Regions from separate parts of the Homo sapiens genome. Here all the other regions are linked to region 2. The links come from fine-mapping of genetic effects on gene expression. A gene starts in region 2. Each other region holds a variant in brackets. All regions are shown on one strand. Distances are between the middles of the regions.

Region 1 (7,988 bases), 69 kb before region 2:
TATTTTTTTAACAGCTATTTTGAAGTCTCTGCTAAATCTAATAGCTGGGCCTATTCAGAAATCATTTCTATTAATGACTTTTTTTTCCCTGAGCATGGGTTACACCTTCCTGATTTTTCCTTGCATGTCTTATAATATCTGGTTGAAAACTAGAGGCTTCAGATAATCTACTGGAGTAGCTATCGATTGTTTTATTTACCTGATGGGCTATTTATTGTTTTTAATAACTTGCCTATACTTAAACTGCAAAATCTAATTCTCCCATAGTATGTTGTGACTGATGCTCTGCTCGGTTTTTTTTTCTTGTTTTTATTTTAGCCTGGGTTTCTAGGGCAGCCTATGCCTGCATCATTTAGTAGTCAGACAATGATCTGGGCAGGGGTTGCTCATAGACCTCAAACCCATAAAGCTTTGCCATCTGCCAATCTATCTGTATATTGCCTGAGGAATGCATTCAAAGTTACAGCCAGTTCTCAAGTCCCCTTTAATTTTTACTTTTTATTGGGTTCCCTTGGGTCCCTCCTGCACATGCAGGTAACTTCCCTATCAGCCAGAGATATGTGGAGAGCTTATCGTAGCCCTTCTATGGCTCTCTTATTTTCAAGATCTTCCCATTTAGTTTCTGGCAGGTCCACCATCTACTCCAACAGGCACTGCAACCTTCAGCTAGCAAAGCTGTGGATTCTCTCCATTCATTCTCAACCAAGTTTGCCACTTTTAGTTGGCAAAGCTGTGAGTTTTCACCTGTCCCACATTAAGTCTACCCCCTCTGGCAGAAAATTTGCTAGTGTTATTTATTTATTTTTTTTCCTTTTCAATTGAGACGGGGTCTCACTATGTTGAGTTCCAGGCTGGTTGGAACTCCCGAGGCTCAAGCAGTCCTCCTACCTCAGCCTCCCTGTAGCTGAAATTACAGGCATGTGCCACTGCACTCTGGCTCCTTAAGATATTAGTTTTCATGTTCAGCCACACACTGGTAAAACTACAATTCTTGTCACCAGAGCTGAGTAATGGAGGTAAGGACAGATGGGAAACATTCCAAGAAGACCACAGACTTCCACTGTACCTACTCAAAGTATTACCAGCCTTTTAAGAATAAATTCTTAGGCTGGGGTGTGGTGGCTCAAGCCAGCGCTTTGAGATGCCGAGGCAGGAGGATCACCTGAGCCCACGAGTTTTTCAAGAACCTAGGCAACATAGTGAGACCCCGTGTCTACAAAAAATATAAAAAGTTAGCTGGACGTGGTGGTGCGCACTTGTAATCCCAGCTACTTGGGAGGCTGAGGTGGGAGGATGGCTCATGCCAGGGAAGTCAAGGCTGCAGTGAGCCATGATCACACCAACCTGGATGACAGAGTAAGACCCTGTCTCAAGAAAAAAAAAAAAAAAAAAAAAAGAATAAGTTTTTCTCAATTTGTTTCTGCTTCTATTTTATTTCTAGATATGTTAAAAATATTTGGTTTTAACAATTTTGCCCAGTTTTATACTTGTTTTTTACACGAAAACTACAGATCCCTTCTTGCTGCCATTTTGTAAGCCCTCTTGTTTCTATTTTCCCATTTTTAACATTTCTTTTCTGAAATTCTTCATCTGTTTACTCATTGAAACTATTTTCTGGCCCGATACAGTAGCTCACACCTGTAATCCTAGCATACTGGGAGGCCAAGGTGGGAGGATTGCTCAAGGCCAGAAGTTCAAGATCAGCCTGCACAACATAGCGAGACCCCATTTCTACAAAAAAAAAAAAAAAAAATTATAATTAGCTGGGAGTGGTGGCACACCCCTGTAGGCCTAGCTACATAGGAAGCTGGGTTGGCAGGATCGCTTGAGCCCACGAGTTTGAGGCTGCAGTAAGCCAAGATAGCACTACTGCACTCCAGCCTGGGCAACAGAATGAGACCCAAAAAAACAAAAACAAAACAAACATTTTCCTTTAATTATCTGAACATACATATGATAGCTACTTTGAAGTCTGACTACTATCTCCAACATCTGAGTCAACTTGGAGCCACCTTCTATTGACTGCCTTTTTTTCCCTGCGTATGGATCACCCTTTCCTGTTCCTGTGCATGTCTGGTAATTTTTGGTTTAACGTTGGACATTCTGATACATGTAGTGACTCTGGATTCTACTATATTTTCCTTGGGATTACTGGGGGAGGTTTTCCTAGTAGACAAATAACCTCCCTGGACTGAACTGTAGACTTTGCTCCTTACAGTGTTCAACAACTGATATCTCTGTGTAGTTCTCACAACTTTTTTTTTTTTTTAAGACAGTCTTGCTCTGTTGCTCAGGCTGGAGTACAACAGTGTGATCTTCTCAGCTCACTGCAACCTCTGCCTCCTGGCTTCAAGTGATTCTCGTGCCTCAGCCTCCCTAGTAGCTGGAATTAAAGGCATGCACCACCACACCGAGCTAATTTTTGTATTTTTAGTAGAGACGGGGTTTCGCCATGTTGGCCAGGCTGGTCTCTAACTCCTGGCCTCAAGTGATCCACCTGCCTTGGCCTCCCAAAGTGCTGGCGTAAGGCACCACGCCCAGCCTGGCCACTACAGGTCTGCCTGTGTAACTGATAATTGACCAAGAATTTGGCCAGAGATTTTACTCAGATTTGGGGCCTGTTCTCATTGTACTGTCTTTGTTTCTGGGGATTCCTCCCTAACTTTTCAGCCTTAAGATTACGTCCACTGACACCTCAAGTCCATAAGACTTCATATATCTGCCACCTGGTTCCCCATGGTTGGAGAATGCATTCAATTTTAAAAAGCAGCAAACTTACGAAGTTCACCTTGTGTAGATTCTGTCTTTCAAAGACAGAACTCTAATCTCTGCCTCCCTAATCTCTGCCTGCTTTTTCAGCAGGCCTCATGGAGTCTGCCCATGCAGGTGTAGTTTAGAGGTACATCCAGGGATTTTAGCAGAGTTCACAGTCAGGTTATGGGGGTCACCCTCTTCTGTGGTTTTCTCACTTTCAAGCCCTCCTGCTAAATTTTCAGATGCTTTTTCTATCATGAACTCTGTTTTTGCCACCATAAGAAAGTAAGGCTGGAGTTTTCCACTGCCACTTTCCTCTGCTGTGGGAGTTGTTGAATGCCCTCAGGAAAAAATTTTTTTAAGCTGCAAATTCACAATTCTTTTCACTCCCAGTTGCCATTTTTCAAAAGTAAGCGCTCCTCTAGCTTCTATCTGCTTTTGGAACCTTTCCAGTATCTTTTAATACATTTGTTTACAGATTTTCTAATATTATCTGTGGGAAGGTTTCAGAGACTACTTCACTCTGCCACCATTACTGGAAACTCCTCCTGTGGGATGGATTTTAAAATATTAAGAATCTAATATTTATGGAGCTGTAATAGATCTGGGGTTTGGGGAAGAGTCTGAGATGACACCCATGTTTCTAGCCTGAGTGAGGGACTGACTACAGTAGTATCAAAAACGAAATAGACTACAGAAGAGCAACTTTAAGGAAATTACAGGAAGTTATGTTTTAGACAAATTGAAGCTAAAATACCTCTGGGAAATTGAAACAGAAACTAAGATTTGGAATCA[T/C]GCTCCTAAAGCCATGGGAGTGGATGAACTACGACAGGAAGAACATGTAAATAAAAGAAATAGTAATCAAAGAATAGAACATTTAGGAATACAAAGGCTGTAAGCTGATAAAAGGACCAACAAAATTGACTAAGAAGGAATCATCAGGAAGAAGGAAAAGGACCAGGAATGTGTGGTCCCCAAAGAAAGAAGGGACAATTGCAACCAGTATGAAATAATGCAGATGGGGCCAATCAAATAAAGACTGAAAAGAATACACTGCAATCAGCAACTGTGAAGTCACTGGTGACCCTGGCAAGAGTAGCTTCAGTGGAAACCAAATTCCACATGGCTGAGGATTAGATGTAAGTGAATAAAGAAGAGACAGCAAGTGCAGACTACCTTTGATATTTCTAGATAAAAAGGAAGAGAGACAAACGAATGGTAGCTAAAGATGCAAGGAGACAAGATCAAGGACATATTTGCAAGTATCAAGTTTGAACAATGAGCATCAAGTTCTGAGACTGAAAACTTAATGATAGAGTTGAGTATTATGCAAATATTTAGGAGAGCATCTGGGTCCAAACTTGGGAAGTAAATATCAGAGAAGGCTTCAAAAAGAAGTAAAGCCTAGGAAGACTAAGTAGTAGTTAGGTAGGTGAATGCCACAAGGTAAAAAAACAAAACAAAAACAAAAAAAAACATGGTGGACTTTCTGTTCCAGTCAAGAAGAAGTAACAGCAAGAAGATTTATCCTTCTGAAAAAAATTTAAAAACCAGACCAAATATATTAAACAATGGCGTTCAAGACACCAGACATCAGGTGATAAAAAACAGTGATCCCTAAGAAATGAAAAACAAGTAAGATCAACCCTATGATTGCCCCAGCTTACTGTCTAGAAAATGTTTTTGAGCCATGGCACAGGAAGAAGAAATCCAAGCACAGACCAGCAGTCTTTCTGAGTTGAAGAGCTGAACTGGAAGTCTGGGAAAGAAGAGTGCTATACAGAGACAGAACTCTGAAAATTTGAAGGAGACCCCCTTAAGTACTCAAGGGAATACTGATAATCAGATGTATATGGAGAAACTACAGAGGGTCAGGGAAAAACTAACCTGTATTCTTTGTTTTGTTTCTTTGGGTTTTTTTTTTTTTTGAGATGGAGTCTCACTCTGTCACCCAGGCTGGGGTGCAGTGGTGCAATCTCCACTCACTGTAACCTCTGCCTCCCAGGTTCAAGCGATTCTCCTGCCTCAGCCTCCCAAATAGCTGAGATTACAGGCGCCTGCCACTGTGCCCGGCTAATTTTTGTATTTTGAGTAGAGAAAGGGTTTCACCATGTTGGCCAGGTTGGTCTCGAACTCCTGACTTTAAGTGATCTGCCCGCCTCAGCCTCCCAAACTGCTGGATTACAGGCATGAGCCACCATGCCTGGCTTTTGTTTGTTTCTGAGACAGGGTCTCACTCTATCACCCAGGCTGGAGTGCCATGACGCGATCTTGGCTCACTGCAGCCTCGACCTCCCAGGCTGAAGCAATCCTCCTACCTCAGCCCCCCAAGTAGCTTTTTGTACTTTTTACAGAGATGAGGTTTTGCCATGTTGCCTAGGCTGCCCTGTAGTTCTCTTGATTACAGAGAAAAGTACTCAAGTTTAGACGGCTAAGAAATAGTACCTATTCCACAAAGCTAGAATGGAAAACTTTGTAATTCATAGGGCATCAGTTAAAGTACTAATAAAAGTCCTACTTTAGTAGGATAGAAAAATTAACCCTAGACTAAATGCAGCTCCGGACTCACATGACAAAGCTTAAAAGCAAGACTCAAAAGTATCACTGTTTGCAAATAATTTAACCACAGTCCAGAACAAAGCTCAAGAATATTCATAGTGATACAAAAATATCCAACACCCCAGTAGGTAAAATTTACAATGTCTAGCATTTAATCTGAAATAACCAGACATGCAAAGAAGCTGGAAAATAAATACTATAATGAGAAAAAAAATGTAAATCAATTAAAACTGATCCAGAAATAACAGAGATGACAGAACTGGTAGATAGGGATATTAAAATAAGTATTATGATTATATTTCTATGTTTAAGAAGTTATAGGAAAGGTTATAAGACATAAAAAAGACCTCATATCAAACTTTTAATATAAATATTACAATGTTTGATATTAAAGAAAATACACTTGATATGTTTTGGCTCTGTGTCCCCACCCAAATCTCATGTTGAATTGTAATTTCCAATGTTGGGGAAGGGACATAGTAGGAGGTGACTGGATCATGAAGGTGGATTTCCCCTTCCTGTTCTCATGATAGTGAGTGAGTTCTCATGAGATCTGATGGTTTAAAAGTGTGTGGCACTTCCCACTTGACTCTCTCTCTTTCCTGCATGTGAAGATTGTGCTGCTTCCCCTTTGCCTTCCACCATGATTGTAAGTTTCCTGAGGCTTCCCAGCCATGCTTCCTGTACAGTCTGCAGAACTGTGAGTCAATTAAACCTCTTTTCTTCATCAATTACCCAGTCTCACATAGTTCTTTATAGCAATGTGAGAACAGACTAATGCAATACTGTAGGAATTTAATGGCAGATTAAACAATGCAGAAGAAAAGATTAGTAACCTTAAAGAATTTCAATAGAAACTACTCAAAATGAAACACAGAGACGAAAAAAGACTGAAAATAAACGAATGGGGATCAGCAAACTGTGAAATAAATTCAATTGGTCCCAAAGGGAGAGGGACAGAAAAATATTTGAATAATTGTCAATAATTTCCCAAATTTGAAGAAAACTATAAACCCACATTCTAATCCAGATTAAAGTTCAACAAGCCCCAAGCACATGAAACATAAAATTACGCCATAGAATAACATAATCAAATCGCTTAAAACAGTGGTAAGGAGAAAATTATATAAGCAGCCAGAGAAAAAAGAAACATGATATATGTGGAACAAAGATAAAAACTAGAGCAGATATCTCAACTGAAACAATGCAAGCTAGAAGACATTGACACAGTATCTCGAAAGTACTGAAAGCAAAAAAATAAACCTGTCAACTTGGATTTGTTTAAACAGGGAAAATATTAAATGTAATATTTTAAAAAAAGGATTAGCGCAGAAATCAATAAAATAGAAAACAGAAAAACAATAGAGAAAAACGAATAAAACCAAACATGGTTCTTTGAGAAACATTAACTAGTCTAATCAGGAGAAATGAGACAGCAAGAGCCAGAGCCAGAGCAAGAGACAAGAAGACACAAATGATCAATATGAAGAATGAGAGAGACAATGTAACTAAAGGTTCTACAGATGTTAAAAGGACAGTAAAAGACTATAATGAACTTTATGCAAATAAATTTGACTAATGGCATGAAATGCATAAATTCCTTGAAAGACACAATCTGCCAAAACTCACTCAAGAAGAAAGAGACAGCCTACATAGCAATGTATCTATCACATAAATTGAATTTCTAGTTTAAAACTTTTCACAAAGAAAATTCGAAGTACAGATGGTTCACTGGAGAATTATATTTAACATTTAAGGAATAAATAATACCAATTCTACACAAACCCTCCAGAAAACTGAAGAAAAGGAAAAACTCCTCAACTCATTCTATGAGGCCAGCCAATAAACAGATGTAAAAATTCATGACAAAAATTTGATAAATCAAATATAAAAATACATCAAAATAATATCATGACCAAGCTGGGCGCGGAGGCTCACGTCTGTAATCCCAGCACTTTGGGAAGCTGAGGCAGGTGGATCACAAGGTCAGGAGTTCAAGACCAGCCTGACCAATATGGTGAAACCCCGTCTCTACTAAAAATATAAAAATTAGCTGGGTGTGGTGGCATGCGCCTGTAGTCCCAGCTACTCAGGAGGCTGAGGCAGGAGAATCGCTTGAACCCAGGAGGTGGAGGTTGCAGTGAGCCAAGATCAAGCCACTGCATTCCAGCCTGGGTGACAGAGCAACACTCTGTCTCAAAAAATAATAAATTAATTAATAATAATAATAATAATATCATGACCAAGCGGGGTTTACTCCAGGAATGTAAGGTTGGTTTAACATTTGAAATCAATCATATTATTCACCATATTAACATACTAAAAACAAAAAAAATCATCTCAATAGATGCAGAAAAAGCATTTGACAAAATCCATCAATTATTCCTGATAAAAACTCACATCAAACTAGGAATAGAAAAATTCCCTACAGCTGATGAAAGGTATCTTCAAAAAACCTACAGCTAACATCAGACTTATAGCTGACTTACAGACTTGTTGCTTTCAAAAAACCTACAGCTAACATGTAGACTTTCGCCACTTGGATTCAACACTGTATTGGAGGCCTGGCATGGCGGCTCACATCTGTAATCCCAGCACACTGGGAGGCTAAGGCAGGAAGATTGCTTGAAGCCAGGAGTTCCACACCAGCCTGGACAACAAAGCAAGAGCTCATC
Region 2 (7,988 bases):
GGCCAGAATGGCAGCATACACAGAAATCTTTCTCATATTGCTGTTTTCTCACACTCATACTATGAAAGCACAATATCAACAAAAGAACTTGAAAGAAAGAAAGAAAGAAAGAAAGAAAGAAAGGGCATTCTCCTTTGAAATTTAGCCTTCTTGGCACTGATTCCTGGCAAGAGGCTTTACCCTGGTGAAATAATCTCTAGGAGGAAAGCATAGTCTAAAAAATCTATCAACATAGCCCCTCTCTATGGAAAAAGTAAGGAACGCATTTTTCCCATAAGTGTAGATTCCTTTAGGAAAGGAAAGGAAGCTCAAGACCAGCCTGGGCAAATAGCAAGACTAAGCACCCATGCTGAGTGCTGTGCTACATGCTTTAATTATACTATCCCTCAAATCAAACCATGAGGTAGATAATAACCCTTCCTCAAAGATAATAGGTAATTTGCTCAAGGTTTTATAGTCATTAAGTGGAAATACCCAGTTGACTTTTATCAAGTCTTAAAACGGTTGTGCCAATTCTCCCTTATGAAAAAGAATCCAATTTAAACTCTGGTTCCAAAACAAAACAAATAAATAAACCCAACAGACCTCAGTCACCAAAAGGATGACCATTTCTGTCAATTAGCAGATTGTTTTTTCTGCCTCCTAATAGTCCTTAAAATGAACTGAGGGACTCACATAAAATGCCCTTTTCTAAAAAAAAAAATCTTAAATCTATAAAGAAAATAGTACCTGTTGACAACCACAGAACGCTGAAGCAAAAGCAAGTATAAAACAGGTACAGGCTTCTCAACCACTTCGCAGATGTCTGCCAATAATATCCTGATAAAATCCAGGAAGCAGGATTTGGCTTGACTCCCAGCCTCTTCTCCATGGCCCTCCAGACAGGCAGAACCAGTACACTAGAAGGACAGAAAGAGAAGAAATTACATGCCGAGTAATTAATAATTAATTCCTGGAAATGTGGAATGCTAGAAAATATGACAGATTAGGGGAAAGAAAAATTTCAAGTTTGTCTTTAACGGCTCAACCCTGCCTATAAATTTTAAACCTGGGCTTTGAGGTAGCCTATAATTATCAGAATAACAACACAGCAAGGGATATCAAATGAATCCACTGAAAACTGAAACTTTATATTCCTTTTTTTTTTTTTAATCTAACAGTAAATCACCTATGTGGTAGAATGGAAAGAGTACCAGCCCGCAGACAAGAAGATCTCTGAGTTTTAGTTGCAGTTCTGCTACTAACAGCTTTGTGACTTTGACCAAACACACTTTCTTACTTTTGAGGAGAAGAGGTTGCACCCTCAGAGGTAAAGTAACCTGAGGGTTATGTCTGGCCCAGTATTTTTTAAATTTCTGAATGCAAATGTCTTTAGGCAGGGCATGCACTCTCCAGTCTGCTACTGTCTCCGCCCACCACTATTATCATGAAAATCTATTCAATTTACACCTCAATGCTACCCACCCCAATCCCTGCATTCAACAGATACTTACGTCAGGCACTATGCTGGCTACTCCAGAATCTAGGGGCTGGATTATTTAGGTCTCTTCCAGCAGAAAAACTCATTTACCATAAATTTCTCCCCTCATATAAAACTTTGCTATATTGTCTAAATTAGTACGTAAATATTGGCAACATTATGAGGGTTGACTGAGTTCTGAAGAAGCAATTCAAAAACTTCTGTCCAACTATGTACCTGTCATCTACATCCAGCAAACGACACAGGCTGCCAACCCCTAACTCCTATCCACGGCCAGCATACAGGGAGATCAGCATTGCCTGGGCTGGATACCAATACTGACTAATACCAAGAAACAGCCACAGACATACACACAGCTGCAAAACTAAGGTGCAGCCCACCCAAGAAAAGGCTTTTGCAGAACCACATGCATCTGAAGGACTTCATCGTTCTCATTCACTTCCATCCATTCCTATTTCTAGTTGTTTTGTAGTTGTATTTCAGGGAGCAGGGGGCAGAAAGGAGGTGTGTGGGCCAGAGACATGTTCAAGAGATTATGAAATGGAGCCTAAGTTAGAAAGTACATCCAGCAATTTCTCTAGCCTCCCAAGAGGGAACGAGTGAGTATGCATGTGTGCATGTATGGGTGTGTATGAATCTTACCCAACACATTTCTGCCTACCACAAAAGGATTTAAAACTCAAGGTGACTCAACAGCTGTCATCAATAGCCTGACAGGTGGGTGGGAGAAGCAGAAAAGAAATGAATAGCTTTTGAAAAATGGAGTAATAAACACCACTGGACTAACAAGCTGATTAGAAGTGCCATGTCTAATAAATCTTGCGTCTAAGAGAAAGGCAGAGTTAATTTCATTTGAACTCCTAACCAGTCATTCCTCTGAAACCTATAATTGCCTAAGGGCACAAATCACTGCTAGGGTCCAGTTAAAGGCTTGCTGACCAAACGCAAGAACAACAACACATCACCAAGATCCGAATAGTTTGTTACTGAATCAAAGGGTAACAACCCAGGGAGAGAACACACACCCCCACAATACTTGACAAATGAAAATCTAGAGAAGCTCACAATAGTTCTGGCATTTAGGGCGTTACAAGTACACCCAAAATAAAAGCACTCTCTGTTGCAGCAGCTGTTCAGACAGAGCAGGGGGTAATGTTTACTTAATACTTCAGGTTGATGGGGGATGTATCACAGTTCAGTCTGTCAACTACATACGTGGAACTCCATTTATGTACACAGCGATAAGATATGTTTGAACAACGATGGAGCACGTCTGAAACAATCTATTCAGTTGGTATGAGTAATCGAGAATAAAGCTCTTTTTTAAAAAGTCTCAGATATTTGGGAAAGTTACAGAACAGACTGCCATGAATAGCTTTGCTTATATTTGCAGACACTGTTTTCCAAATAGCTGGAAAAATGAACAGATTGTTCTGGGAGGTCGTCTTTCCAATTTGTTCCTAGTTTTCAGTCTGTTAATCACAGGAGAGAGCACAAGGAGAGTCAGCTAATGCTCTTCACTAACTGCAACTACTGTCAGTTGGACACAACCACTATGAGACCAGAAGCCAAAGAGTTCCTGGAATCCCGCCAGAGGTTATCAATTTTGACTTCCTTCATTTCACCTTTGTGCTCACTGCAGCCACTACAGGACCCTCTGTGGGGCATAATTTTCAAAATCGTGGATGAGGCAGGTTTCACATTATAATGGACACATCGTGCTCAACCCCATCCCCTCTTCATTCTGCACCAACTTTCTATCTCGGTGGAGAGACCAAACATCAGAGACAGCAACTAAAGACTAGGCTGCAGAGGTCGAAGGTGGAAGAAGGACGGCAGCGCCCCGAACCCCGGCTGTCTGCCTGGCTCTCAGGGGATGGAGGGAGCTGCATGACTAGGCCCAGGCCCGAGAGAAGCGGGGTTCAGCCTGGGACCCAAGCTGCGCACCTGCAAGGACAGAAGCAGCTGGCTGCCCTGGCCGAGCCAGGGGCGCCACCTCCGGACCCAACATCCGGCCAGCGCAGCCGCTGACATCGCCCGTCCCGCTTGCCCCTCCCCTGAGCCCATGGTCCTCGGCCTGGCAGCCAGCCGCCCCCGGCCACCTACCGGGGCTCAGGGCCACATAGCGGGGCCCCGGCTCTCGGCGGCCTCCGCCTCCTCCTGGTCCATGGGCTCGGGGACCCCCAACCTTCGCTCCCCTCACCCGGAGGAGGAGGAGGAAGAGGAAGAAGGTAGTGCGGGCTCCCCACCCGGACAGCTACCTCTCGCCTCAGCCTCCCTGGACAGCGACGGCGGCCGGAAACACCGCCTCCTCCCACCTCCCCGGGACCGACCCGGAAACACACTCTCCATGCTAACCAAGCCCTCCCGCCCCTCCCCCGGGAAGGGCAATGCCGGCCGCGAGACCAAGGGGGAGGAGGGGCAGTGCTGGGCGGGTAAAACTACGCACAAGCGAAGGAATCTGGGCCCCCAGCCTCTCGCCGCCCGCTCTCCAGAGGCAGTCTGCACCTTGCCTCCTTCGCTCGAGCCCCAGCCCCCAGACTCGGGCAATACCCACAAGCAAGATGGCGGCAACGGCGGCACCCCCTACTGCTTAGCACCCTGACTTGCCATTGGCCAGAGCCCGGAGTGAAGCAGCCGCGGATTCGTCAAGAGCGGTGCGGGGGTGGGGGTGGAGCTGCAGCAGCCTGGAGCCAGGAGTGGGCAACGCGGCGTGAGCAGCGGCCCGAGGCTCCCGGAGCATCGCGCTGGGAGAAGACTTCGCCGCTCGGGGCCGCAGCCTGGTGAGCTCAGCCCCCTTCGGGCCCTCCCCTGCATCCCAGCCGGGGCCTCTCCGAGCCGGCGCTGATCGATGCCGACACACCCCGGGGACCCTATCGCGACTCCATCGCGCCATATCGCGACACCATCGTGCCCTGTCGAGACTCCATTTTGTCACAGCCCTTTTCAATATATATCTTTTTTTTTTTTAATTTGCCCTGTCATCTTTGGGGGCTGTCTCCCATGTCGTGATTTTGACGTGATCTCTCCGTGACATCACCGCGCCATCGTGAAGTGTGATCTCATCGCCGCCCTGTCGTGACTTCATCAATGTCGTGTTGTGACCTGGCTGCGGCGGGACAGGTGGTGACCGCCAGGAACCCTCCTCCCCTTCTCATCTCCCCATCTCAGCAGCCCTGCTTCGATTATCCGGCTTTTGGATTCTCCGTTGTCCTGGGAACTATCCGGGACCCCCTCTTGCTTCTCCAGCCCCTGCCGGCATCCACAGGCTGGTAGCGGGACGGGGAGGGCGAGAAGAGGGAGCGCAAGGGGTTAATTCTGCTGCTGCCGCCGCCGCTGCTGCTGCTGCTGCAGCCTCTACCCGAGGGAGGGAAAGGAGAGGAGGCAAGGAGCCTGCGGGGGCGACTGAGAGCCCTGGCTGGAGGGGTGGGGTCCCCAAAGGGGCCTCCAAGCCTTCCCTGTTGAGCGTCTTGTATTCTCACTTCTGAAGCGTATCTCTGCCTCTGAAGAAGGGAGGGGAAAGGAAGCCTGGGGTGTCCTTTTCTCCCATGTCAGCCTGAGTCCGGATAATCGAACTTCACCCATGTATGTCTCCATTTCTCCCTGTCTGTCCTCACCACTCACTCCCTCTGTGTCCCTGTGGAGGGAGATAAAACCCAGCCTCCGGTGCCAGGGGGACAGCTGAGCAGTGGGGCCAGCTCCCGCCCACCCCCAGGAGACTGGTGAGGAGAGCTGTCCGGCTGAGCAGCAGCATGCATGGTCCTTCTTTCCCGCTTTCTGGAGGTGACCTTGGACCAGGGTCCCTTCTTTATCCCTAAGGATTTGCAGATCCAGCCCCTTAAAGGGGCTTCTGGGGGGAGGTCAGTCCTGAGGAGTCCACCCCTCCAGATTCTCTCCTCCCCTCCCTCTGTGCTAATCCCTCCCTCCCTCCATCCTCCACTCTCACCCCCACCCCACCCCCGTCCCTCCTCTGCAGAGGGATGCTCAGTCCCTCTTGTGTTCACAGTTGGGCAAGGCGAGCATCATGGCCTCGGATTGCGAGCCAGCTCTGAACCAGGCAGAGGGCCGAAACCCCACCCTGGAGCGCTACCTGGGAGCCCTCCGTGAGGCCAAGAATGACAGCGAGCAGTTTGCAGCCCTGCTGCTAGTAAGGAACTGGCTGAAAATTGGGAGGTGGGAAGGGCTGGGTGGTTGGGCCCCCAAGGAATGGGGTCAGTGAGTCCCCAAGGATATGTACGTAGTGCTAGCAACCCTGGAGGCACCAACGAAGGCCCAAGACCCCTACCTTTGTGCTCTTTTTTGCTCCCCCTGAGAATGGGGGCAAAGAGGAGAATGGGACTGAATAAGGCTGTGGCACTAGGGGCTGCCTGGGTCTGTTTTCTGGGGCGTCCCAGAGCAGATGGAAGCTGACTCATAGGGTAACAGCAGCAGGTAGTAACTAGTGCAGAGTACTTGAGGGCTGGGGATGGTTGTTCTGGGCCTGGAGAGAGTAGCAGGGCTGGAAGTGGCTGGGGAGGGGTCCTAGGGGAAGGCCAGGATGGCAGTAGGTAGGTTAAGGAATGGGAGCTAGTTTGGGGCTTAGCCTTTTTGGAGGAACCCAAGCTGGGGACAGCAGAGCAGAAGCTGCAGTGCTAGGAAGGGGGGGTTGTGTGTGGGGGGTGAAGGGAGGAGGGAGTACAGCCGCTGCTTGTTTGCCATGGCAACAAGGAGAAGGCTCTGGAGTCAAGGGCTCACACTGCAGCAGAGGAGGTGTTTAGGTGAAATGTAAGGGGAAATGTTTTGACAGGCGGAGCGGCGAGACACAGGAGCCATTTCCCCTGAGAAGGTGGCAGAAATGGATCAGGGACTTCTCTGGAGGGAGCAATTAAGGAAGGACTTTAAATCCTTGGGAGATCTTAAAACATTGAGTTCTAAGCCCCTTCCATCCCAGGTTGTGGGCATTTAGACATCAGGAAGAACTTCTCAACTGGCCAGGTGTTGAAATGCTCAAATGAATGGTTGAGGAAGACTAGACCTCACTTCCATGGGACAGTCACAGATGAGAGGGATCCCAGAGGTCACATTTATCTGCCTCTAAGGAGAAAAAAGGAGCTGGATGAAATGACCTCAGATGAGTCCTGTTGCATAACCTCATCTTGCTAGTCCTCAGTGCCCCAGGATGCAGGAGAGGGACAGTCTTTCCCACTTCTTCCTTTCATCCTGATGATAGCACATACCCCCTATAGGTGACCAAGGCAGTCAAAGCAGGTGACATAGATGCCAAAACTCGGCGGCGGATCTTCGATGCTGTCGGCTTCACCTTCCCCAATCGTCTCCTGACCACCAAGGAGGCGCCGGATGGCTGCCCTGACCATGTTCTGCGGGCTTTGGGTGTGGCCCTGCTGGCCTGCTTCTGCAGTGACCCTGAACTGGCCGCCCATCCCCAAGTCCTGAACAAGATTCCCATTCTTAGCACCTTCCTCACAGCCCGGGGGGACCCGGACGATGCTGCCCGCCGCTCCATGATTGATGACACCTACCAGTGCCTGACGGCTGTAGCAGGCACACCCAGAGGGCCTCGGCACCTCATTGCTGGTGGCACCGTGTCTGCCCTATGCCAGGCATACCTGGGGCACGGCTATGGCTTTGACCAGGCCCTGGCACTCCTGGTGGGGCTGCTGGCTGCTGCCGAGACACAGTGCTGGAAGGAGGCGGAGCCCGACCTGCTGGCCGTGTTGCGGGGCCTCAGTGAGGATTTCCAGAAAGCTGAGGATGCCAGCAAGTTTGAGCTCTGCCAGCTGCTGCCCCTCTTTTTGCCCCCGACAACCGTGCCCCCTGAATGCTACCGGGATCTGCAGGCCGGGCTGGCACGCATCCTGGGAAGCAAGCTGAGCTCCTGGCAGCGCAACCCTGCACTGAAGCTGGCAGCCCGCCTGGCACACGCCTGCGGCTCCGACTGGATCCCGGCGGGCAGCTCCGGGAGCAAGTTCCTGGCCCTGCTGGTGAATCTGGCGTGCGTGGAAGTGCGGCTGGCACTGGAGGAGACGGGCACGGAGGTGAAAGAGGATGTGGTGACCGCCTGCTATGCCCTCATGGAGTTGGGGATCCAGGAATGCACTCGCTGTGAGCAGTCACTGCTTAAGGAGCCACAGAAGGTGCAGCTCGTGAGCGTCATGAAGGAGGCCATAGGGGCTGTTATCCACTACCTGCTGCAGGTGAGGGTGCAGTGACCCACAGAGGGGGCCCAGTATGGGGGGAGCCAGTGCTGGAGCTGGGAGGCAAGGGGGAGGAGAATAATGGGGAGACAGCGAAGCTGCATGTCCACACAAGCTGATACTGTAGCCAGCACTCCAGGGAGTAGTGTGCGGCCCAACCTCCCTCTCTCTCCCTCCCTCCACACAAGCACCATACCACACACCATATGTGCACTCACATCACAGTACACACACACGCACACACACACAACACAGTAACCTCCCACTCAAACGCTCCCCCCAATACACACACACTACACGCCACACACCTCTCC
Region 3 (7,988 bases), 120 kb before region 2:
CCCAATACCCAGATAACCATGGTGGAACAGGGCCAGGGTGAGGGGGACTCAGGAAGTCTTGGTTCCAAGGAGATGAAAGTCTTTCCAAGTCAAATTTGCCTTGTGAGCAGCCAAGAGCCCAATGAGTTGATGCATACGCGCTCACTCTAACACGCACACATGCAAGGGACACAGAACACATACAGATGGAGGGACAGAGAGGGGACCACAGCGGGGCCATCGCACACATGCGCTCTCATGCCACAACATTCCAGTCCATCTGGGGCTATCTCCTCTGGGGACAGGGAGCGGTGGCCTAAGCCCCGAAGCAGCAGGTGCCGGTCAGATGGAGAGGAGGGAGGCCGTCTGTCCAGCCTGGCTGCTCTGACAAGGGCCCTGGCAGCGAGAGAGGCCACCCGCCATCCCTGACACAGTCAATCCTCCCTAATCTCGGGCCGGATGGGAGAAGGGAGTGGGGCTCCAGTGTTAAGGGGGGGCCAGATATCATTTCTTTTTTTTTTTTTTTTTTTTTGACGGAGTCTTGCTCTGTCACTCAGGCTGGAGTGCAGTGGCACGATCTTGGCTCACTGCAGCCTCCACCTCCCAGGTTTAAGCAATTCTCCTGCCTCAGCCTCCCGAGTAGCTGGGATTACAGGCATACGCCACCAAACCCGGCTAATTTTTTTTTTTATTTTTAGTAGAGATGGGGTTTCACCGTGTTAGCCAGGGTGGTCTTGATCTCCTGACCTCATGATCCGCCCGCCTCGGCCTCCCAAAGTGCTGGGATTACAGGCGTGAGCCACCGCGCCCGGCCATCATTTCTATGCTACCATCTCAGCATCTGTGGTGAGGGGAGGGGTGCCACTTCCTCTTTGCCCAGCGAGAGGGCGTACTCTACCCCAGAGAGGGAAACACCATGCCCACAGTGCTTGGTTTTGCACTCAGGTGTGCGGGCAGCACAGCAGGCCTCACCTTGCAGCACTCTGGGCACAATGACACTGTCCACTGGGGAGCTGCAGAGCTTAGCAGCTGGCTGGGTCTGCCCTCGGGGGAGGGGAGGAGTTTGCAAAAAAAGGAGGCCCTGAGGTGAGGATATCTGGGGGCCCACCAGACAGGTTTAAAGAGGAAACCTCTTCATTCACAGCTTCGTTGAGGGGTTCCTGGAGGACGTCTCTGGATTCAAGTCCCAGGGGTTCTGGTTGGGACTGTCAGGGCGAAATGACCAGCAGATGCTGGGACAGCAGCTGCCCGCAGACTCGGGAGGTAGGAGGACTGGCCGGGCAGTGTGCTGGGCCCTGCCCTGAGGAGACAGACCAGGTGGCTACAGGATCTCCTCCCGCGGGCTCCTGGCCTTCAGAGGGGTCTGCCCGTTGGGTACAGAGCCATTCTGACCATGCAGGAGTTTGCCCTTCTCTCGGTCTGGCCATGTAAAGATGGCATCATCGCTGTCCAGCTCTGACTCGGAGTGCATCAGGCTGCTACTTAGCAAAAGGCCTTTCTGTTTGATGCCTGCAGGGAAAACAAGGAATCCAGCATCAGGAGACTGGCCTCAAGGCTGGAGCCACCCCCACACCTTACCCCAGCCTGAGGAGCCAAGGAACAGGGCAAGTCACAGGCTCCTCTCCAGGCTGGGAGGTGCAGATGGGAAGGAAGCTTCCCTAGTCCTTCTCCCGGGCCCAACTGGTTGGAACAGTCCACTAAGGGGTGTCACAGAGTACGGATGAGAGCACACCTGGGGTCTCCTGCTGGTTCTTCATCTCCAGTATCCATGAGCTTTGGTTCAGGCCACTCAGTGACATTCTCTTTTCTTTACCTTTCAAATTTGGAATATTTTATCACCTCCCTCTATGGGTGGAATGACATGGTAGGCAGGAAAGCACAAAGAACTCAGGCTCTGGAGAATGAGCTTTTAGCTGCACCCTAGGTCAGCAAGGCCGCTGAGTGCTGGCACAGCAGGAGTGTGCAGTTTCAGTCCATGTAGACATTTGCTCTGTGGGCTCTTGTCTGCTGTGGCTTCACTGGATGCTAGGGTGGCAGAGTAGGTGCACACTTGGACAGGTCTCTCCTGCTGGGAGAGCCTGACTGAAATGGGGACTCTCAGAAGCAGTCCCAAGCAGCCAAATCACAGAACACACAAAGCAAGAACCGTATGAAGCACCTGGGGTCGAAGAAGACACCTGCGATTCTGCAAGCCATGGCAGTCCCTTCACTACTTATCCCTATAGATGCCGAGCGGCCACAGACATGAAATGTGGTCTGATAAGAAGAGTTCCAACAGCAAAGATGGCTGCCCTCTGGCTGGTGCAAAAACTCCAGAGAAAACAAACAGCAGGCTGAGATAGCAGGACTAGAGTGGGAGCTGCCAACAGGTGGCACCCCCTCAGCAGTGTTCTGGGTCCTGGGAATGCCCACGCCCAGGAGCTAACCTCCCTCCTTTCTAAAAAAGGTAACCAGTCAGGTGAGGGGTGGACATCTTAGGGAGAGGGGAGAGCCCTCTCCAGCACCACAATCTCATCATCCAATAATCATTCTCCCTTCTCCGGGGAGAAGGATCCAGATCTCCCTCACATACTGAAAGTGCCTTGAGAGGATTCCCAGCCATTCAGCCCTTCCTGGCCACACCTGACTTAAGGGTGGCAGTGCCCCGAGCTCTCCAGGCTGAGCGCATCCAGACCCTGATGCGCCTGCCATTCAGGACCACATGCGCCCAAGGACCTTGTCCATGTACAGCTGTGCCTGTGCCACATGCTCTGGGGCTTGGGCAGGGAGCTTCCTCACCCGCGTTGGTGTCAGGGTTACAGTTCTGGGTCTTGACTGAACCTCTCCTACTGAGTCTTCGGGCAGCGGAGCAGCAGGGCCACAGAAGAACACTGACCGCCAGGACATCTCCAGTGTGGTGGGGACAGTGGAAAGGGCCCTGGCAAGGGCCCAGGTCCTCCAAAGGCCCTGCCTCACCCCTTGAAATACCCACCTGTTCACAGCTGCCTCCTTCCCAAAGCCCCTCTGGCTATAGCAGTGAGGACAGGAGCCTAGGTTCAACCTAATATACTTCAATAGAAAGTTTTAGAAAAAAAATCAATAGAAAACAAAAACAACAACAAAAAACAACAGCAACAAGAGAAAACAAAGCCATAGCTGCTGAATGTAAAGGGGGCCTCCTGAGGGGGGCAGCCCTACACTTACCAGGTGGCACTGCTCTCCTTCCTCAGTTACTGTTCATCCTCAGCCTAAACTGGCTCCTGGCAAACTGTCCGTCCAGACTCCCGCGCACACACATCCTCTTTCCCCCCAACGGACCCACTCAGTTTACCCTTCTTCCAGCTAAACTTCTTCAGTTCCATACCTGACACCATATGGTCTTGAATCTCATTCTCCTCGTCCTCCTAGTGACTCTACTCTAGGCTGGACCTGCTAACCCACTGAGCCCAGAACAAGAACCAGTGCTTCCGGCCTGCTCAGACCCACACCGAACCTGAGCGGGCTCTCCCAGCTCCCTTCGGTAGACACTGCCCACAAGAGACCAGCCCTGCTGCCCTCACCTGGTCGCACGTTGTTGGTTTTGGTCACCTAGATGCCACTGGAACACCCCATGGCTCTCCCCTCTCCCTAAGATGTCCGATGTGCTGAGCTCAGGCTCCCATCCAATCTCACCTCTGCAGCGCGGCACTTCTCCGGGCCATCACCGCCCGTTTCTCCCCTCCTGCCTCAGAAGAGGCATCTGAACTCCATGCTCCCTTTCTCTCCTCTCTTCCCTTCTCCCTCCTTCCTCCTCAGTCAGGAAGCACCTCTCCAACGCACCACTCCTCTACCTGCATTCGACATTGCCACCCACAGATCTGTTCATGAGCCCTTCTCTGAGGAAGAGGAGGCCCTTGCCCTCTGCCTGCCATCCTGCTTCTCTAGCTTTCACTGCTCAGCTTCTAAAAGGATTTTTAAATATTCAGGGCCTTCATCTCCTCACTGCGCTTTCTAAATCACCTGCGCTTTCACTTCCACTGTCACTCCCCACTCTACTGCAGCTCTCTGATGGGCCAGGAGCTTCTCTGGTGCTATCAATTCTGATTCTTTGGCCTTTGCAGCAGCAAACACCGACGGCTGTCCCCTAATGAATCCCCTCCTCCCTCCTGGATGGTCATTCTTGGGGTCCTCAACCCTAGGCCTCTTCTTTTGTCCTTCAACATTCCCCCATAAGGGATGTGACCCTTTGTGGTGCTGATCCTCACCAGCAGATGGGAGATTCCTATTTCTACAGTTCCATGTCTGACTCTTCTGCTGAGTTCCATTTAATTCATCTTCTCTTACCCAGTCACTGCATCAGAGGTTCTGATTCTGTCAACAGCACTATCATTCTCCATCTCTCGGTTGGAAGTCAGCCCTGACCTTGCCAGACCTAGCTATAACCCACTGACACCACGCTGTGTGAATCACTGTCAGCTCCTCCTTGGACCAAAAATCTCCTTGCTGGTCTCCACACTTGTAGCCACTCCCCTTCAATTATTATATGTTGTCACCAGACTGATTTTCCTAAACCAGCTTATCCAAGACTTTGCTTCCCAGCATCACCAGGATAAATGTTTAACTCTGCAGGCTGATAGTCAAACTTTCACAATTTGGGCCTTGTCAATCTTTCATTCTCATTCCCTCAACTCCATTCATAACTGTCTTGCACCAAACACTTGATCTCCACCATTTCTTCTCCAGTCTCTCCCATCTCAGGGATACTACCACCACCCAACCCACAGAGGCTCAGTGCTGA[A/C]GCTGGGAGCCATCCTTCCTTTCTCCCTTCTCCCACACGCCTTGGCCAGCAGACCACTAACCTCATCAAGTCTTCCTCAAAAATGTATCTAGAATCTATCTGCCTCTCAACCCCAAGGACATTCTATCTAACTTCCTTTCAGCTAGCCTTTCCCCTCCAACCCCTGCATCTGTCAGCCACAGTTATCTTTTTTTTTTTTTTTTTTTTTTTTTTGAGACAGAGTCTGGCTTTATTGCCCAGGTTGGAGTGATCTCAGTTCACTGAAACCTTCACACCCCCAGGTTCTAGCAATTCTCCTGCCTTGGCCTCTCGAGTAGCTGGGATTACAGGCACCCACCACCACGCCCAGCTACACAGTTGTCTTTTTAAAATATAAACCAAGACCGGGTGCCATGGCTCACACCTATAATCCCAGCACTTTAGGAGACCAAGGCAGGCAGATCACTTAAGCCCAGGAGTTCAAGAACAGCCTAGGCAACATGATGAAACCCCGTCTCTACCAAAAATACAAAACAACAACAACAACAACAAAAAAACCTGGGGATGGTGGCGCATGCCTGTGGTCCCAGCTACTTAGGAAGCTGAGGTGGAAGGATCACCTGAGCCCAGGAGGTCAAGACTGCAGTGGGCCTTGATCGCACCACTGCACTCCTGCCTGGGTGATAAGAGTGAGACTCTGTCTCAAATAATAATAAATGTAAACCAAATCCCACCATTCATCCCCTTAAAAAGCTATCAGTGGCTCCCCATTGTACTCAAGAGAAGTCCTCAGCAGGGACCCTGCTCATCCATTGAGCCTTGGGTCACTCACCCCTTACTCTGTGGGAAGGTGAACCTGTCCATCATGTCACCTTCTTCTACCTCCTCAAATGCTCTCTGCTCCTTCTAGCAGCTGGGTCTGCACCAGTTTTGTTCCTTTGCCTGGAATGCTATTTCCTGCAGCTTTATCTGGCTAGCTCCCACTTATCCAGGTCTCAGCTTAAGTGTTTTTCTTCATAAAGGCCTTTTATGAGCATATTTTATGTATTTGTGAGTTTGCTTAATGTCTGTCTGACATAAGCTACACAAGAGTGAAGTCTGTCCGTTTGATTCACCACAATATAAGCAGTGTCTGGCACAGGGCCTGGCACATAGTGGTCCCGCTCCATATCCACAGATGAATGAGACAGCCCCTGCCCTCAGGGATTTCACTGATGGGTGGGGAGACAGGCAAACATAACTAATCATGAGACAGCGAGAGAAATGCCGACCCAGGCATGTGAGAGAAAGGTGAGCACAACTTGAGGAGGTTAAGGGAGGGATAAGAAAGAGCTTTCTAGGGCTGGGTATGGTGGTGCATGCCTGTAGTCCCAGCTGCTTTGGGAGGCTGAAGCAGGAGGACCACTTGAGCTCAGGAGCTGGAGGTTGCAGTGAGCTATGACTATACCACTGCACTCCAGCCTGGGTGACAGAGCAAGACCTTGTCGCCACATTTTTAAAAAAGAAAGAGATTACTGGATGAACCAGAAGAACTTGTTTAGAAAAGAGGGAGATCAGCAAAGAGAAAGATTCCAGAAAAGCAAACTGATGTAAGCTCACAAAGGCCACATCTACCAGACCAAAAGTTCTAGCTTTTTGTGCTAGAAATAGTAAGTCATTGAAGAATGTCAGGGGGTGAAAAACATGATCAGAGTAACATGATAAAAACCTTGGCTGCAGTGTGAGGGGTGGGTTTTGCACATTTCACCTCCAGGCCCTCATTCTCAATATTCCTGGGTGAAATGCCCCGCCCGCCCTCACTGCTCTGGTTTCCTGGGCTCATTTCAAGCCCCACCACCTCCAGTCTCCACCTTGACAGTGTTGGTGGATCGAGCTGCTTGGTGCAGAGTCCAGACTGCTGTGAGCCTGTTCTCTTCTGCTACTGTGTGTCTTTTCTCCCTCACTAGACTGAGAGCACAGCCTGTGTCTGATGACTCCCTATACCCCCATAGCCTCTCCCTAACACAAAGCTTTAAGCATGAAAAGTGTTTAATAAATGCTTTATATAAAAATAGTTCTACTTGCAGAGTGTTTAGGAATCGCTTTATAGAGTCTAGCTCTCATAAACCAATGATACCTGTCCCATGGCATCCATGATGAGTGAAACCCTCGCCAGGTGACCCAGCCCAGCGGAGGAAGGAAGGCCTACTACCTGCCCTGATCTCCCAGTGCCATCACTCAAAGTCATCTTACTGTTTGTGCAAGGAAATGCCCTCCTATCTGCCCTAAGACACTGACAGAAGCTGAGGACTTGCCAAATGATAAAGATAGGAAGACAGGAGAACAAGGCTGGCTGAAAGGTGGTCAGCTGGCAGACACGGGCCTGGGTCTCATCTCTGCCCATAAAGCACAGACTGGTCAGCAGTAAGAGACAAGTCCAAGGTCCCTGACCCTGACTACCTGGGGCAGTTGGAAAAGCGGAACTCCAGGTGGGAAACATGAGGAGAATGCCCAGGCAAAGGAAAACAACAGGCCCAGCACCCCCGCCAAGCGGAAGTAGCACGCGAAGTGGGTCCTGGAGGCATTTTGTCCAGTGCAGCTCAGGGCAAATCTGACCCTCAGTCTTCATCAGGCAAAAGGGAACAAAATGCTTTGCAAGCACAGTGGGCTGTTAGTGACACACTCAGGAGGGGCTAGTGACAGCAGCCTTCCACAGAGAGAGTGCACAGACCTAGAAGCTCTGGCACCCAGGGCCCCTACCTGCTCGGGAGGTTGGCTTCAGCTCCAGGCTTTCCTGATCCGTGGCATCCAGGATCTTGTACTTGCTTTTCCTCTTGGGTTTTCCTTTTTGCCTAAAAAACACAACCCCCACCCCTGCTCAGGAAAGAGGTTCTCTGGGAGGATGAGGATGAGAGCCAGATGTGCATGCAGGGCCCTATTTTGGTGGGGCACCTACTGAGAGGGGTGTCCTCTCCTCACTTCTCAGCCAGGAAAGGTGGCAACTGTGATTTGTTCCTCAAATGTTCCTCAGCAATTCTGGAGAAGGGCAAGGGAGCTATGACCACCTTGGCACGGACTCACCATCCCACAGGGGCAATGAAGGACAGATTGGTTAAAAACGTAAAGAAAACAAAATCCTCTGCTTGAAGGGTGTGGGAGGAGACAGGCATTACACTAACAAAGTTGGTAATGGTGGTTGTCTTAGACTGGTGGGAATTTTTAAAAATTCCTTTAGTTCTAAGTTTTATAAGAGGTTATACTGAAAGTTGAATCTCAGCTCTGTCACTATCAACTG

Evidence for each region.
Region 1: its variant is fine-mapped to the expression of KIAA0319L in whole blood (TOPMed, PIP above 0.99).
Region 3: its variant is fine-mapped to the expression of KIAA0319L in whole blood (TOPMed, PIP above 0.99).

The regions. Positions count from the first base shown.
Region 1 is chr1:35,485,003-35,492,990 of GRCh38, forward strand. All of the region lies in intron 3 of KIAA0319L (KIAA0319 like), which reads right to left. Among named protein-coding and RNA genes, the nearest start is that of KIAA0319L, 68 kb to the right of the region's middle. The variant T/C (reference allele first, on the strand shown) is at 3,550.
Region 2 is chr1:35,553,621-35,561,608 of GRCh38, forward strand. It overlaps KIAA0319L (KIAA0319 like), which reads right to left and starts at 3,783. Exons shown (of 21, transcript NM_024874.5): 1 at 3,587-3,783; 2 at 730-899. The coding sequence starts at 871. NCDN (neurochondrin) reads left to right here and starts at 4,179. Exons shown (of 7, transcript NM_014284.3): 1 at 4,179-4,603; 2 at 5,487-5,627; 3 at 6,706-7,674. The coding sequence starts at 4,571. RefSeq lists enhancers at 1,457-2,412, 3,213-3,940, 3,941-4,667, 3,957-4,016, 5,395-6,120 and 2 more and silencers at 3,477-3,576, 3,587-3,726, 4,798-5,007.
Region 3 is chr1:35,433,594-35,441,581 of GRCh38, forward strand. It overlaps KIAA0319L (KIAA0319 like), which reads right to left. Exons shown (of 21, transcript NM_024874.5): 20 at 7,454-7,545; 21 at 1-1,488. The coding sequence ends at 1,301. Among named protein-coding and RNA genes, the nearest start is that of ZMYM4-AS1, 72 kb to the left of the region's middle. The variant A/C (reference allele first, on the strand shown) is at 4,736.